Homo sapiens: one gene and its partners. The protein of the gene in region 4 interacts with the protein of the main gene of each other region in a pairwise test. Each region holds a gene or a part of one and is shown on either strand. Other genes may lie near its edges.

Region 1 (3,500 bases), on a different chromosome or scaffold from region 4:
ACTGCGGTCAGGGCAGGACATGGGGCACAGTGGCATGGTTGGTCCTGGTGTGCAGCTGTTTTTTATGGGGTCTTGCTCTGTTGTCCAGGCTGGATTGCAATGGCGCAATCACGGCTCACTGCAGCCTCAACCTGCCAGGCTCAAGCCATCCTCCCACCTCAGCCTCTCGAGTAGCTGGGACCATAGGTGTACATCACAATGCTTTGTAGAGATGGGGTCTTGCTACATTGCCCAGGCTGGTCTTGAACTCCTAGGCCCAAGTGATCCTCCCACCTCAGCCTCCCAAAGTGCTGGGATTGCATGCATTAGCCCCAGTGCCCAGCCTCCTGCATTATTTTAATGCTTCCATTATGTTGATGTACATAGTAGCTAATTCCCCACCAAGGAGCATTTTGGTTGTTTCTGGTTTTTCCCTCTTACCTAAAAGCTGCAACGAGTGTTTTGCACTTTTGTGTCACTGTGGTCTTTGTTCTTATAAGTGGGATTTTTGCCAAGTTGTATTCCAAAAAGTTGTGCAACCAGGTGTATCCGAGGGCATGTGGTGGTGGCTGGGTCTCCCTTTAGCCAGAGAGAAGCTCCTAGGCCTGTGCAGTGTCTGAACCACCCCTCGTGATTATCCCCAGTCTGTTCCAGAAATAATCCAGGATCTTCCCATCTCTGTCTTGAGAACACTGTGTAGAATCACGAATGTCTATGTAGAAAGGAAAGGGAGGGCAGGCCCCTCTGTAGGCTCTCATTGCAGAAGGACTCTGTCCAGCCCAGCCACGTGCCGCCCTCTGCTTCCTCTAGGAGGCAGACAGGCGGATCCTGCAGGCCCTCCTCGAGAAGGAGGACGAGAGCCAGCGCCTCCACCTGGCCAGGCGGGAGCAGGTCATGGCCGATGTGGCCTGGATGAAGCAGGCCATTGAGGAGCAGCTGCAGCTGGAGCGGGCGCGGGAGGCAGAGCTGCAGATGCTGCTGAGGTGAGTGGCAGCTGCTGACTGGGCTGGATGCTCCTGGCCTCAACTCTGATACCTTGAAATGCCCCATGGGTCACCTGTTACTGAAATATCTATTGGCTGGGCGTGGAGGCTCACACCTGTAATCCTAGCACTTTGAGAGGCCGAGGCAGGTGGATCGCTTGAGCCTAGGAATTTGAGATCAGCCTGGGCAACATGGCAAAACTCCAGGCTCTACCAAAAATACACAAATTGGCCAGGCGTGGTTGTTCATACCTGTAGTTCCAACTACTCGGGAGGCTAAGTGGGAGGATCACTTGAGCCCAGGAGGTTGGGGCTCCGATTAGCCATGACTACACCACTGCACTCCAGCCTGGGTGACAGAACGAGACTCTGTCTCAAAAAAAAAAAAAAAAAAAAAAGAAGAAGAAGAGATAGCTGTGTATGTTGTCCATCATTCCTGAGGAGCACATCTTCATAATGGACCTGGCCTCTGGGGGTGTTTCCCTTGTATTATCTGAGGTGGAAATCATTAAGGTTTAGAGTAACGATGTGTTCATCTGAAATCTTAGAGGTTTAGAAGGAAATTATTTTTTTTTTTTTGAGATAGAGTCTTGCTCTGTCACCCAGGCTGGAGTGCAGTGGCATGATCTCGGCTGACTGCAATCTCTGCCTCCTGGGTTCAAGTAATTCTCTGCCTCAGCCTCCCGAGTAGCTGGGATTACAGGCGCCCGCCACCACACCCGGCTACTTTTTGTATTTTTAGTAGAGATGGGGTTTCACCATCTTGGCCAGGCTGGTCTTGAACTCCTGACCTTGTGATCCGCCAGCGTTGGCCTCCCAAAGTGCTGGGATTACAGGCGTGAGCCACTATGCCCAGCCAGAAGGAAGTTATTATAGAGATGTTGAATGCTGCTTACATCTATAAAACTGAGTTTGGGTCCTAAAGACTAAACTAGTAGATTGAAATCATCAAATAATAAGTAGCATACATTGAGCACTTACTGCATGCTGGACACTGTGCCGGGTGCTTTACAGGCCTCATCTTACTGAGTCCTGACATCCAGCCAAGTGGTGGCTTGTGAGACCCGGAGACTTGAAGAGGTCACTCCGTCCAGGGTGAGCTATCAGTGACACAGGCATGCGGTGGCAGGGTTCAGGCACAGGCAGCGCCCTCCTCTCCATGTTCTGATGGTTTCATTCATCTCTGTGTTAAACAGCCACGGTGTAAGTCATCCCAATTCCTTTTTATAAGGAGATGGGGTATTAAAAGGGTAACTTAAAATACTTCCAACAGGGCCAGGCACGGTGGCTCACGCTTGTAATCCCAGCACTTTGGGAGGCCAAAGCAGGTAGATCACTTGAGATCAGGAGTTCAAGACCAGCCTGACCAACATGGTGAAACCCTGTCTCTACTAAAAATACAGTAATTGGCCAGACATGGTGGCACATGCCTGTAATCCCAGCTACTCAGGAGACTGAGGTACTAGAATCGATTGAACCTGGGAGGTGGAGGTTGCAGTGAGCCGAGATCGCACCACTGCACTCTAGCCTGGGCAACAGAGCGAGACCCATCTCAAAAATAAAAAAAATGAAAAACTTCCAACAGTACTTTCCGTGGATGCTGTCCTTAATTGTAATCTTTTCAAAGTGCATGTGGATGTTTATCTGCAGTGTGGTCCTGCAGAAGCCATGTGCCCTGCAGCCCTGTCTGTTCCGTAGCTCGCTTCCTGCCAGGGCGGGGAGGAGCCTGCTGTCATCCCTTTTGTGTTTGCCCAGGGAGGAGGCCAAGGAGATGTGGGAAAAGAGAGAGGCAGAGTGGGCCCGAGAGCGCAGCGCACGGGACAGACTGATGAGCGAGGTAATCCCAGCTGCGGCGATGTGGACCGGCTGTTGGGTCTTGGGCAGGTGTCTGGAAGTCCATGGTCAGTCACCCTGCCAGATGCTCTGGGAACAGAGTCTTCTCTGGTCATTTTAAGTGGGCTTTAAAAATCATTGAAAAAGTAATATGAGCTTAGTAGAAAAGAATTCAGAAGTACAGGAAGTAGAAATGGAAAAAAGTCCCCCAGAGCCCATCCTGTATGCAGCCGTAGCTGCTGCTTCTGTCTGCTCTTCTGTTTCTATGCCTGACATTTTTTCTACATGTATTTCTTACTGTCTTGTGCTATTTGGCTTCAAGCGTTGTGACATGCTGTTACATCTTTATAAACGGCATGTCAGGGGCTGTATCACGGACTGTCCTCTGTCACCCGCTGCCTTTCCATTCCCTCTTATGGGTGTGCTGTGTTGTTCTAATTGGAAGCCATTCTGAGAAACGCTGCAGAGAGCCTCTTGGTGCCTGAGGCTCTTCCCACACGTTTCCCCCCTCGGGGTAGATGACAGCCGTGACCTGGAGGACATAACTGCTTTCCTGGTCAGTGTGTACACTGTGCGTGGAAGATATACCCCAACCGCAGAGAAATCTGGGAGGAGAAGAGAGAGTGTTACCCATGGGCTGAAAGCTGTTGTAAAGTGGTTTCAAATGAGAAACTCTACGTTGTGTCTGGTAGTATGCTGTATTTT
Region 2 (3,500 bases), on a different chromosome or scaffold from region 4:
TCTCATTATGTTTACCAGGCTGGTCTCAAACTCCTGGGCTCAAGCAATCTTCCTGCCTTGTACTCCTGAGGTGTTGGGATTACAGATGTGAGCCATGGCATCCAGCCTTTGCTGTTATTTTTTTCCCCTAAATAAGATCTCCTACAGGTTAGTGGCAAAGTTAATTCAATGGGAGCAAGTCAAAGGAGAAGTAAAGAGCATGGGAATACAACATAAAGAGAAACAGGAACCAAAATATATAAATTTACCGTAAGTGTTCTCACTGTTTGAGCAAGATCCTATAATAAATTAAACTACACTATTTTCTCTATGTAAGATATAATTGCTACCAAGATAAATAAGATTAATGGATTGGGGAAAATAATTATACTTTTAAATGATAATTAGGCTTAATTATACACAAGTTGGTGTTATGAAAAAGCTATTGTCCAGGCACGGTGGCTCACGCCTGTAATCCCAGCACTTTGGGAGGCCAAGGTAGGCAGATCACCTGAGGTCAGGAGTTTGAGACCAGCTTGGCCAACATGGCAAAACCTCATCTCTACCAAAAATACAAAAATTAGCTAGGCGTGGTGGTGAGCACCTGTAATCCCAGCTACTCTGTAAGCTGAGGCAGGAGAATCGCTTGAACTCGGGATCCAGCCTAGGTGACAGAGCGAGACTCTGTCTCAAAAAAATAAATAAATAAAAAATAAAAAGCTATTAATAGTTTACTTCCTAAGGGTAAGTAATCTATTTCTAAGAAACATTATGCTCACGTTCATCAAATTAAGCTCCCTTTATCAATGGATTAAAGCTAAATTATAAAAGAATACTCATTGTAATTAAAAGCACATATGCATATTTAGAAATCAGATTAAAAAGTAATAAATCACATTACTTACCTGGCTTTGAGGGAGATAGTTTCCTACTTAAACATCAACATTTTTATGTGCAACATCTGGAACACTGGTTTTCAAACTTTGTACTGCAAAATTCTAGTGAAGGGGTTCTAAGAATTCCGTGAATATTTTTATATTGAAACTAACAAAATGCAACACATACTACTAAACATTAACATATGTGCTAATGAACACATCACATAACCGATGTTTAACGTGTTAATTTGTGCTATCAGATTTCATCCAAACCTTAGAACAAAGCTCTTTGATATATCTGTTTACTGCAATCAAAAATAATATAAAGAACAAGATCAGATATTGGTATAAGATTATAACCATTAACTAAGGCCACAATAGAAAATGTCTGTATTCATCAACATAGCTTCATGGTTCTCACCATAAAGGTGAGTTTATATGTTGGTTCTCACCATGAGGTGAGTGTGTGTGCACTGAACACAAGTAACTGATGACAATTTAAATCCATAAGCTAAAACACTAATGCTATTTTCAATCTGCTCATATTTTACTATCTACTGATTAAAAAAAAAAGAGTTTGAAAACCAGTGGTCTGGAGATTCAAGATTTTTTCATGATACCTGAGACATTTTACTCTGGATTTAGATATTTGAGCTAAACTTTGATGTGAGTCATAAGCCTTAGCCCGGGTTGTCAGGAGTTTCTGCAATTCTTTCATTCTTTGCTTCTGTTTAGTTAGGATCCGATTTCTCTCTTCTTCCAACATTTTCTTTTCCTCAAGTGATCTCCTGAGGGTAACAAACTAAGGCTTAATCCACTTTAAGCCAATCAGAATGTTGTTTAGCAAAGATTTAACATGGGATAATTTGAATTTTGATAATTCAAAATTTGAAAAAAGGTAACCTTTTGAAAAGGATCTGACCTGTAAAACTAGAAATATTTATTTATTTATTTATTTATTTATTTATTTATTTATTTTTTTTGAGATGGAGTCTCGCTCTGTCGCCCAGGCTGGAGTGCCATGGCGTGATCTCGGCTCACTGCAACCTCTGCCTCCTGGATTCAAGCGATTCTCCTGCCTCAGCCTCCTGAGTAGCTGGGATTACAGGCACCCGCCACCACGCCCAGCTAATTTTTTGTATTTTTAGTAGAGATGGGGGTTTCATTATCTCGGCCAGGGTGGTCTTGAACTCCTGACCTTGTGATCCACCTGCCTCGACCTCCCAAAGCACTGGGATTACAGGTGTAAGCCACTGTGCCCAGCCAGGTAAAACTAGAAATCTTAAGACTATTATTTTCTAATCCCCCAAAATTTATAAATGAAAAATATATTCATTTCTTAGAATACCCTCTGACAAAATATCATATATTATATAGTAAAATATCTTATAGATACAATAATAATTTCTAAGTATTTTCAAATTTACCAACATAAACTCCACAGAGCTGCATACACTCATCTGGCAACCATGAGTCAGTCAGTACTGCGTCCTACTTACTTACCTTACGGCTTGTTCTCGTCCTCTGGAAGATACCGTGGGCACGGGAGGGTTGCAGTTACAAGGCACAGGGTTTACACCTGCACATCTTACTGGTGACTTACGCCTTGGAGACAAATAAGGCCAACGTGTTTCTTTTAAATTTTCTTCATCTGCTTCGATGTCTGCCAAAATTTTTTCTCTTTTAATAGATGCATGTGGAGATGCATGAAGATCAAATGGTTTACACACTGTTAAGAGTTTTGGAGACTTGTGTTCTGAGAGGTGTTTCTGGTATCTCTCAGGAAGGTCCTCAAAATCAGGAGTTGGGCACCTAACCTTGTGTTTACACTTCAACTTTACAGCCTGTTCAGGACACCTGGGGTTCCTGCATCCACAAGCTGACCTACAAGGCAGAGGAGATGAGTTCTGTAAATGCTCCTGGGCTCTCAGCTGTGTCCTAAGGTTTCGATAGAGCTCTTCTTCTTTTAACTTGTCATTGGTAGTTGAACCATAAGTAGATCGAGGAATGGGTCTGGCTTTAAATCGATTTGTTTTCTTTTTATACTTAAGAAAGTCTCTCAGCTGCTTTTCCCGGGCTGCTCGCTTCTGTTCCTCCCTTGCTATAAATTTAAATGGCTTTTGTGAGGCCAAAAGAGCTTCTTTGCTTTTCTCCTTCAGAGACCTTCTCCGTTCTTCTTTTTGCTTGACTAAATCATGGTAAAGGGGGAGAAAGACAGATGCAGGAACTGGATTGGCTCGGAATTTCTTCTTATACTCTGGATCCTCTTCTTGTTTTTTGAGCGCTTTATGTACCATTTCGATATCTGATTTAGATTTCATGGACTCTTCTTTTTTCTTCTGTTCTCTTATCATCATTTGAAAAGGCTCCGGTACTGTAATTGTGGGCACCCATTCTTTTCGTTTCTTCCTTCTTTTTTCAGCTGCATGGAAGCCAGTATCTTTACAGCGAATATAATCCTCAACACAAAAGTCTGTCCACATATTGTTGATGAGCTCCTTAGCATAGGTCATCATTCTGTTTTTCCTAGGATACTCTTTTTCTAGGTTGGGTAACTCCTCTTCAGAGGAGGACACATACAAGGAGGAAGACTGGCCTAAATCAGGCTCTGAAAATGATGTCATTAATGAGACAGGGTGATAG
Region 3 (3,500 bases), on a different chromosome or scaffold from region 4:
ACGTGCCTGTCTGGGACATTGGGGGCTTCACCCTGCTTGATGGGAAGCTGGTGCTGCTTGGAGGAGAGGAGGAGGTGAGAGGGGGCACCTGGGAAAGGGGAGGAGGGAAGAAAGAAAAAGGAGGAGGGCAGAACAGAGGCAGGGGCTGGAGGGAGGATAATGGGAAGGTGTCTGCCTCTCCCTCGGTCTGCCTGCCTGCCTGCCTGCCTGCCTCCCCTCTCTGACTACCCACTCCTGCGGGAGAACAGGGTCCTCGAAGGCCCCGGGTGGGAAGTGCTAGCTCCGAGGGCAGCATCCACGTGGCCATGGGGAACTTCAGGGATCCAGGTAAGCTTGAGGGGTGGAAAGGCCTGGGGCATTTGGGAGGCTCTAAAAGTGGGGCAGAATCCAACCCCCCAACCTGCCACCCATAACGACCCACAGATCGGATGCCTGGAAAAACAGAACCGGAGACTGCTGGTCCCAACCAGGTCCACAACGTTCGGGTAAGGCAGCCAGTGAAGGTGGGAGGTAGAGGGGAGAGCCAAGACTCTCGGACCCTCAAAGCTGAAAGGGCACTCTTGCTGGGTGATCTGGAGCAGGTTGCTGACCCTCTTTGGGCCTCAGAGTCCCAGTCTGTCAAATGAAGCTAATGAAATAACCTTTCTCTAGGGGTTGTTTATGGGAAGCCAATAGAGAGTGCAGGAGCCAGGCAGGGCAGTGCGCAGCTATAGTCCAAGCTACTCGGGAGGCTGAGCAGAGAGCACTGCTTGAGGCCAGGAGTTCAACACCAGCCTAAGCAACATGGGGAGACTTCATCTCTTAAATAAATAAATGAATAGTATAGGAGAATATATGATTGATGCTTTACAAATGGGAGTTTGGGCCAGGCACAGTGGTTCACACCTGTAATCCCAACATTTTGGGAGGCTGAAGCAGAAGGATTGCTTGAGACCAGGAGTTCAAGACCAGCCTGGGCAACATAGCAAGTCCCCAATTCTACATGGTAACATTCACCTGTAGTCCCAGCTGAGGCAAGAGGATCACTTGAGCCCAGAAATTTGAGGCTGCAGTGAGCCATGATCGCACCACTGTACTCCAGCCTGGGCGACAGCACGAGACCCTGTCTTAAAAAAACAAATGAACAAAGAATTAGGAGCTGCTGATTGCTCTTATTATTCCTGCTAATACAGCCTGAGCTTGGTGTTGGTCCTCCAAGACCAGTAGATCCTCTGGGATGTCTTGGGAGGGAAGGAGCTGAGGAAGGAGCACAGATTTCTGTCCAGCTGACATTCCCTTCCCCACAGGGGTTGCTCAAGAGGCTGAAAGAGAAGAAAAAGGCCAGGTTGGAGCCCCGGGATGGGTAAGGGTGTATGAGAGGCTGGAGGGGCTGGGGTTCAACACTGGCCCCTCCTCCTCCACCTCCTGCATATCATTCCAATCTACACCAAACACCCCCTGTGGCCTCTGTGTTCTGCCCCACATCAGTTGATGCTGGGGACATTGAATGATCTAGCACAGAGCCAGGGTGGGGGCAAAGTCTGACACAATAACTCTAAAATGGGAGCTAAGTCAATCAACTGGTCTGGGAGGGTTAGGGAAGGTACCCTTGAGCTGAGATCTGAAGGGTGGATGGAAGTTAACTAGGCCAACAGGGGGGTGGAAAAAGCATTCCAGGCAGAAGGAACAACAAGTGCAAAGGCCAAGAGGCCGAAAGAAGCAACTAAAACAAGGCCAAGAGGGCTGGGTGAAGTGGCTCCCAGCACTTTGGGAGGCCAAAGTGGGCAGACTGCTTGAGTCTAGGAGTTCGAGACCAGCCTGGGCAACATAGTGAGACCCCATTTCTACAAAAAATACAAAAATTAGCTAGGCATGGTGGCGGGCACCTGTAGTCCCACCTACTGGGGAGGCTGAGTGGGAGGATTGCTTGAGCCTGGGAAGTTGAGGCTGCAGTGCACAGAGATCATGCCACTGCACTCCAGCCTGGGCAACAGAGCAAGATTGTGTCTCAAAAATAAATAGGGCTGGGTGCGGTGGCTCACACCTGTAATCCCACAGTTTGGGAGGCAGAGGCAGGTGGAACATTTGAGGTCAGGAGTTCAAGACCAGCCTGGCCAACGTGGTGAAATCCCATCTCTACTTAAAATACAAAATTAGCCAGGCATGGTGGCGAATGCCTGTAATCCCAGTTACTCAGGAGGCTGAGGCAGAAGAATCGCTTAAACCTGGGAGGTGGACATTGCAGTGAGCCAAGATTGTGCCACTGCACTCCTGCCTGGGCAAAAGGGCAAGACTCCATCTCAATAAATAAATAAATAAATAAATAGGGCTGGGCACGGTGGCTCACACCTGTAATCCCACACTTTGGTGAGGCTGAGGCGGGTGGATCACTTGGGATCAGGAGTTCAAGACCAGCCTGGCCAACATGGTGAAACCCCACCTCTACTAAAAATATAAAAATTAGAAAATTAGCCAGGCATGGTGGTGGGCACCTGTGATCCCAGCTACTTGGGAGGCTGAGGAAGGAAAATCACTTGAACCTGGAAGGCAGAGGTTGCAGTGAGCTGAGATCCAGCCACCGCACTAAACAAGACTCTGTCTCAAATAAATAAATAAATAAATAAATAGGATAAAATAAAACAAGGCCAGGGAGGCTGGAGCTCAGAAAGTGATGGATTAGGTGGAGGGAGATGAGGTGACAACATCTGGACCCAGCTTGGTCATGTAGGTCACCAGGAGTTGAGTTTATCCTAAAAGCAAGGAGGTGCCATGGCGGGGGGTGGGGGGGGCACGGGGGAGAAACGGGATCCGAATTGGGTTGAAGTCCTTCCTGGCCTTCCTCTACCCTTCAGGCTATGGGGGATGGGGAAGAGGCAGGAATGACGGTGTGCTCACCCACCCCCTTCCCAGACCCCCCAGTGCTCTGGGCTCTAGGGAGTCGCTGGCCACACTCTCTGAACTGGACCTGGGTGCCGAGCGGGATGTGCGGATCTGGCCACTGCACCCCAGCCTCCTGGGGGAGCCCCACTGCTTTCAGGTAAGTGTAGACAGTCCACCTCGATTCCACCTCAGTCCCACCTCCCACCCTTTGGCTTCACCCTTGGCCTCGATCACACCGTTGGATTCTCCATCCCAACAGGTAACCTGGACGGGTGGAAGCCGCTGCTTCTCTTGTCGCTCGGCCGCTGAGAGAGACCGCTGGATCGAGGACCTTCGTCGCCAATTCCAGCCCACCCAGGTCATTGCCCTCAGAAAAGCGGGACACGGAGACCCCGCCCACAGGCCTGGCCCGCCCCTTCCACTCTACCCAAAGCCAGCTCGCTCCATAACCCGCGCCCCCAACACACCTGCCCCGCCTGCATCGTTGCAACGGCTCCAAGACTCCCCTTCCATCTATTACCAGCCCCGGGAATATCAGACCCGCCCCTTCTGTCCACTCCCGGCCCCATATGCACCCAAAGCCCTGCCTGCCAGGCAATCGCGAAGTCTTTACTCCAGTACTACTCTTGTATGCCCTGGAG
Region 4 (2,886 bases):
CCAGGCAGTCACAGCACCCACACCCCTGGGAGCTTGTTCAGTACAGCGTCCTGGATCCAGGCTCCCCCTGGTGTGATTTGAGAAGCCGGGAGGCCCCCGTTCGTCTGTCTGCCTGTCGGTCATGGCTAACATCAGTCCTCAGCTTCAGGGCCAGGGCTGGGCTGCCATGCTAACAGTGACCCTGTACCCGCCGTCCCCCTCCTCGCACCCGTTCCAGCTGCCCTCGGATTTCCAGGAGCGCGTGAGCCTGCACATGGAGAAGCACGGCTGCAGCCTGCCATCCCCGCTCTGCCACCCGGCCTACGCCGACAGCGTCCCCACCTGCGTCATTGCCAAGGTGCTGGAGAAGCCGGACCCCGCCAGCCTGTCCTCCCGCCTGTCCGATGCCTCCGCCCGCGACCTGGCCTTCTGCGACGGGGTGGAGAAACCAGGCCCGCGGCCCCCCTACAAGGGAGACATCTACTGCAGTGACACAGCCCTCTACTGCCCGGAGGAGCGGCGGCGAGACCGGCGGCCTAGCGTGGACGCGCCCGTGACCGACGTGGGCTTCCTGCGGGCCCAGAACTCCACTGACAGCGCGGCCGAGGAGGAGGAGGAGGCCGAGGCGGCGGCCTTCCCGGCGGGCTTCCAGCATGAGGCCTTCCCCAGCTACGCAGGCTCACTGCCCACGTCCAGCTCCTACTCCAGCTTCAGCGCCACGTCGGAGGAGAAGGAGCACGCGCAGGCCAGCACGCTGACCGCGTCGCAGCAGGCCATCTACCTGAACAGCCGCGACGAGCTCTTCGACCGCAAGCCACCCGCCACCACCTACGAGGGCAGCCCTCGCTTTGCCAAGGCCACGGCCGCGGTGGCGGCCCCGCTGGAGGCCGAAGTGGCCCCAGGCTTCGGGCGGACCATGTCACCGTACCCGGCCGAGACCTTCCGCTTCCCGGCCTCTCCGGGTCCCCAGCAGGCCCTGATGCCCCCAAACCTGTGGAGCCTGCGGGCCAAGCCGGGGACCGCCCGGCTCCCCGGGGAGGACATGAGGGGCCAGTGGCGTCCCCTGAGCGTGGAGGACATCGGCGCCTACTCCTACCCCGTGAGCGCTGCCGGCCGCGCCTCACCCTGCAGCTTCTCTGAACGCTACTACGGCGGGGCCGGGGGCAGCCCGGGCAAGAAGGCCGACGGCCGCGCCAGCCCGCTCTACGCCAGCTACAAGGCCGACAGCTTCTCCGAGGGGGACGACCTCTCCCAGGGCCACCTGGCAGAGCCCTGCTTCCTGCGGGCGGGCGGCGACCTGAGCCTCAGTCCCGGCCGCTCGGCTGACCCACTGCCCGGCTATGCACCCAGCGAGGGGGGGGACGGGGACAGGCTCGGGGTGCAGCTGTGTGGGACCGCCAGCAGCCCTGAGCCCGAGCAGGGTTCCAGGGACTCCTTGGAGCCGAGCTCCATGGAGGCCTCCCCGGAAATGCATCCTGCCGCCCGCCTCAGCCCCCAGCAGGCCTTTCCGCGGACTGGTGGCTCGGGGCTGAGCCGCAAGGACAGCCTCACCAAGGCCCAGCTCTACGGAACCTTGCTCAACTGAGCGCCTGCGTGCAGGCCTGGCCGTGGTTCGCTCCCCGCCAGCCCACGTGCCCCAGAAGGGCCGGCCTCACCTCTCCCCAGCCCCCGCTGTTCCCCTGCCCCGGCCAACAACGAGGAGTCTGTTCCTCCCCGCACCTCCTCTCCTCCCCAGCCCTGTAGGCCTGAGGGGAGGGTCCCCCACACCACGGTGTCCACCCGGCCCCGGCCCGTGGAACTCCACTTAGAGCGTTTTTCACGCGTCCTTCCCCCATGTGAGAGGAGCATCCCCCCTTTTATAAAGCGAAACTATTTTTATAGAGAAAAAGGGTCTTTCTTAACGCACTTGGCCTCCAGCTCCCTGGACGGCTGCCTTGGCGTTTTCAACACAAAGCTCCTTTATTTTTTGGGCGAGGGTGCGTGGGGCCTGCCCCTTGGAAGGGAAGGGAAGGACGGTGTCCTGTGGAGACCAGACTCTGCAAGTGGGGAGACCACCCCCGCAAGCCAGTGACAAGGGAGCCCTGAAGTTGTGTCCACGAAGAGGGAGCTGAAACAAATTCGGGGCTATGAAGTGTTTTAAAAATCCATTCTTCGCAGTGTGGCCACCACACCGCCCTGAGCCCTCCCACGGCCCATCGTCCCGGGTGGGCCGGGATGATGCCCCAGTGCGGCCGGTGCTCATCTCCGCCCCCGGGTCCGCCCCCTGACACCGTCTTACTCTACCTCAGACATGAGGAGGCCCTCCATTCCTGGTTTCTGTAGCTTGCATTCTTGTTGTCTCTGATGCATGCCCTGCCAGTTAGTACTGTATTTTGCATTCATTAATAAAAGACACCGGTGGAAAGAATCTGGGTTGGGCTGTTTCTCCTCCTCCTGCCTTTTGGTCTCGGGAACCTGGGGTCCCTGGTGTCCCTCCCCAGCCTTGCTCTCTGCAGCCGAGTTGGGCCCCTTAACCCCACTTCACACCCCATCCCCATAACACCCCGTCCCCACCCCGCCATCCAAGTTCCTATCTAGGGTGTGGATTCTCCTGCTTCTCCCAACCCACTGGAGACAACAGCTCTTTCATCCCATTCTCCTGCGCGCTGCCCCACCGATTTCCTGGCCCCTAATCCTCGTGTCTCAGACTTGGCTTCTGCTCCTTGAGATGTACTGGGGCCACGGATGGAATGTCGGCAGGTGGCCTTTTCCCGGGCACACGGGATGCTGCCGCTCTGCTCTGTCTTCCTGTTGGTATTGGGAACTGGCTGTCAGTCCCGGAGCCGCTCCATTGGTTAGAAAAAAAAAATTGCTTTCTTTTCCCCGGCTCTTTAAGATTTTCTCTTTGACTTTGGCTTTCTGCAGTTT

Evidence for each region. The genes of interacting proteins can lie anywhere in the genome.
Region 1: the proteins of BEGAIN (region 4) and TCHP interact in binary tests that used the Homo sapiens proteins (3 or more experiments, as listed by UniProt).
Region 2: the proteins of BEGAIN (region 4) and FAM161A interact in binary tests that used the Homo sapiens proteins (3 or more experiments, as listed by UniProt).
Region 3: the proteins of BEGAIN (region 4) and RASAL3 interact in binary tests that used the Homo sapiens proteins (3 or more experiments, as listed by UniProt).

What each region holds. Positions count from the first base shown.
Region 1 is NC_000012.12:109,910,274-109,913,773, forward strand, and holds part of TCHP (trichoplein keratin filament-binding protein), read left to right. Parts: intron 1-789; coding exon 790-962; intron 963-2,717; coding exon 2,718-2,799; intron 2,800-3,500. UniProt on the Homo sapiens protein: Tumor suppressor which has the ability to inhibit cell growth and be pro-apoptotic during cell stress. Inhibits cell growth in bladder and prostate cancer cells by a down-regulation of HSPB1 by inhibiting its phosphorylation.
Region 2 is NC_000002.12:61,837,061-61,840,560, forward strand, and holds part of FAM161A (protein FAM161A), read right to left. Parts: coding exon 2,361-3,500; intron 1,646-2,360; coding exon 1,478-1,645; exon of another isoform or gene 885-1,477; intron 1-884. UniProt on the Homo sapiens protein: Involved in ciliogenesis.
Region 3 is NC_000019.10:15,458,045-15,461,544, reverse strand, and holds part of RASAL3 (RAS protein activator like-3), read left to right. Parts: coding exon 1-74; intron 75-248; coding exon 249-327; intron 328-423; coding exon 424-485; intron 486-1,286; coding exon 1,287-1,342; intron 1,343-2,889; coding exon 2,890-3,016; intron 3,017-3,118; coding exon 3,119-3,217; intron 3,218-3,500. UniProt on the Homo sapiens protein: Functions as a Ras GTPase-activating protein. Plays an important role in the expansion and functions of natural killer T (NKT) cells in the liver by negatively regulating RAS activity and the down-stream ERK signaling pathway.
Region 4 is NC_000014.9:100,536,647-100,539,532, reverse strand, and holds the end of BEGAIN (brain-enriched guanylate kinase-associated protein), read left to right. Parts: exon of another isoform or gene 1-217; coding exon 218-1,564; 3' UTR 1,565-2,386; downstream 2,387-2,886. UniProt on the Homo sapiens protein: May sustain the structure of the postsynaptic density (PSD).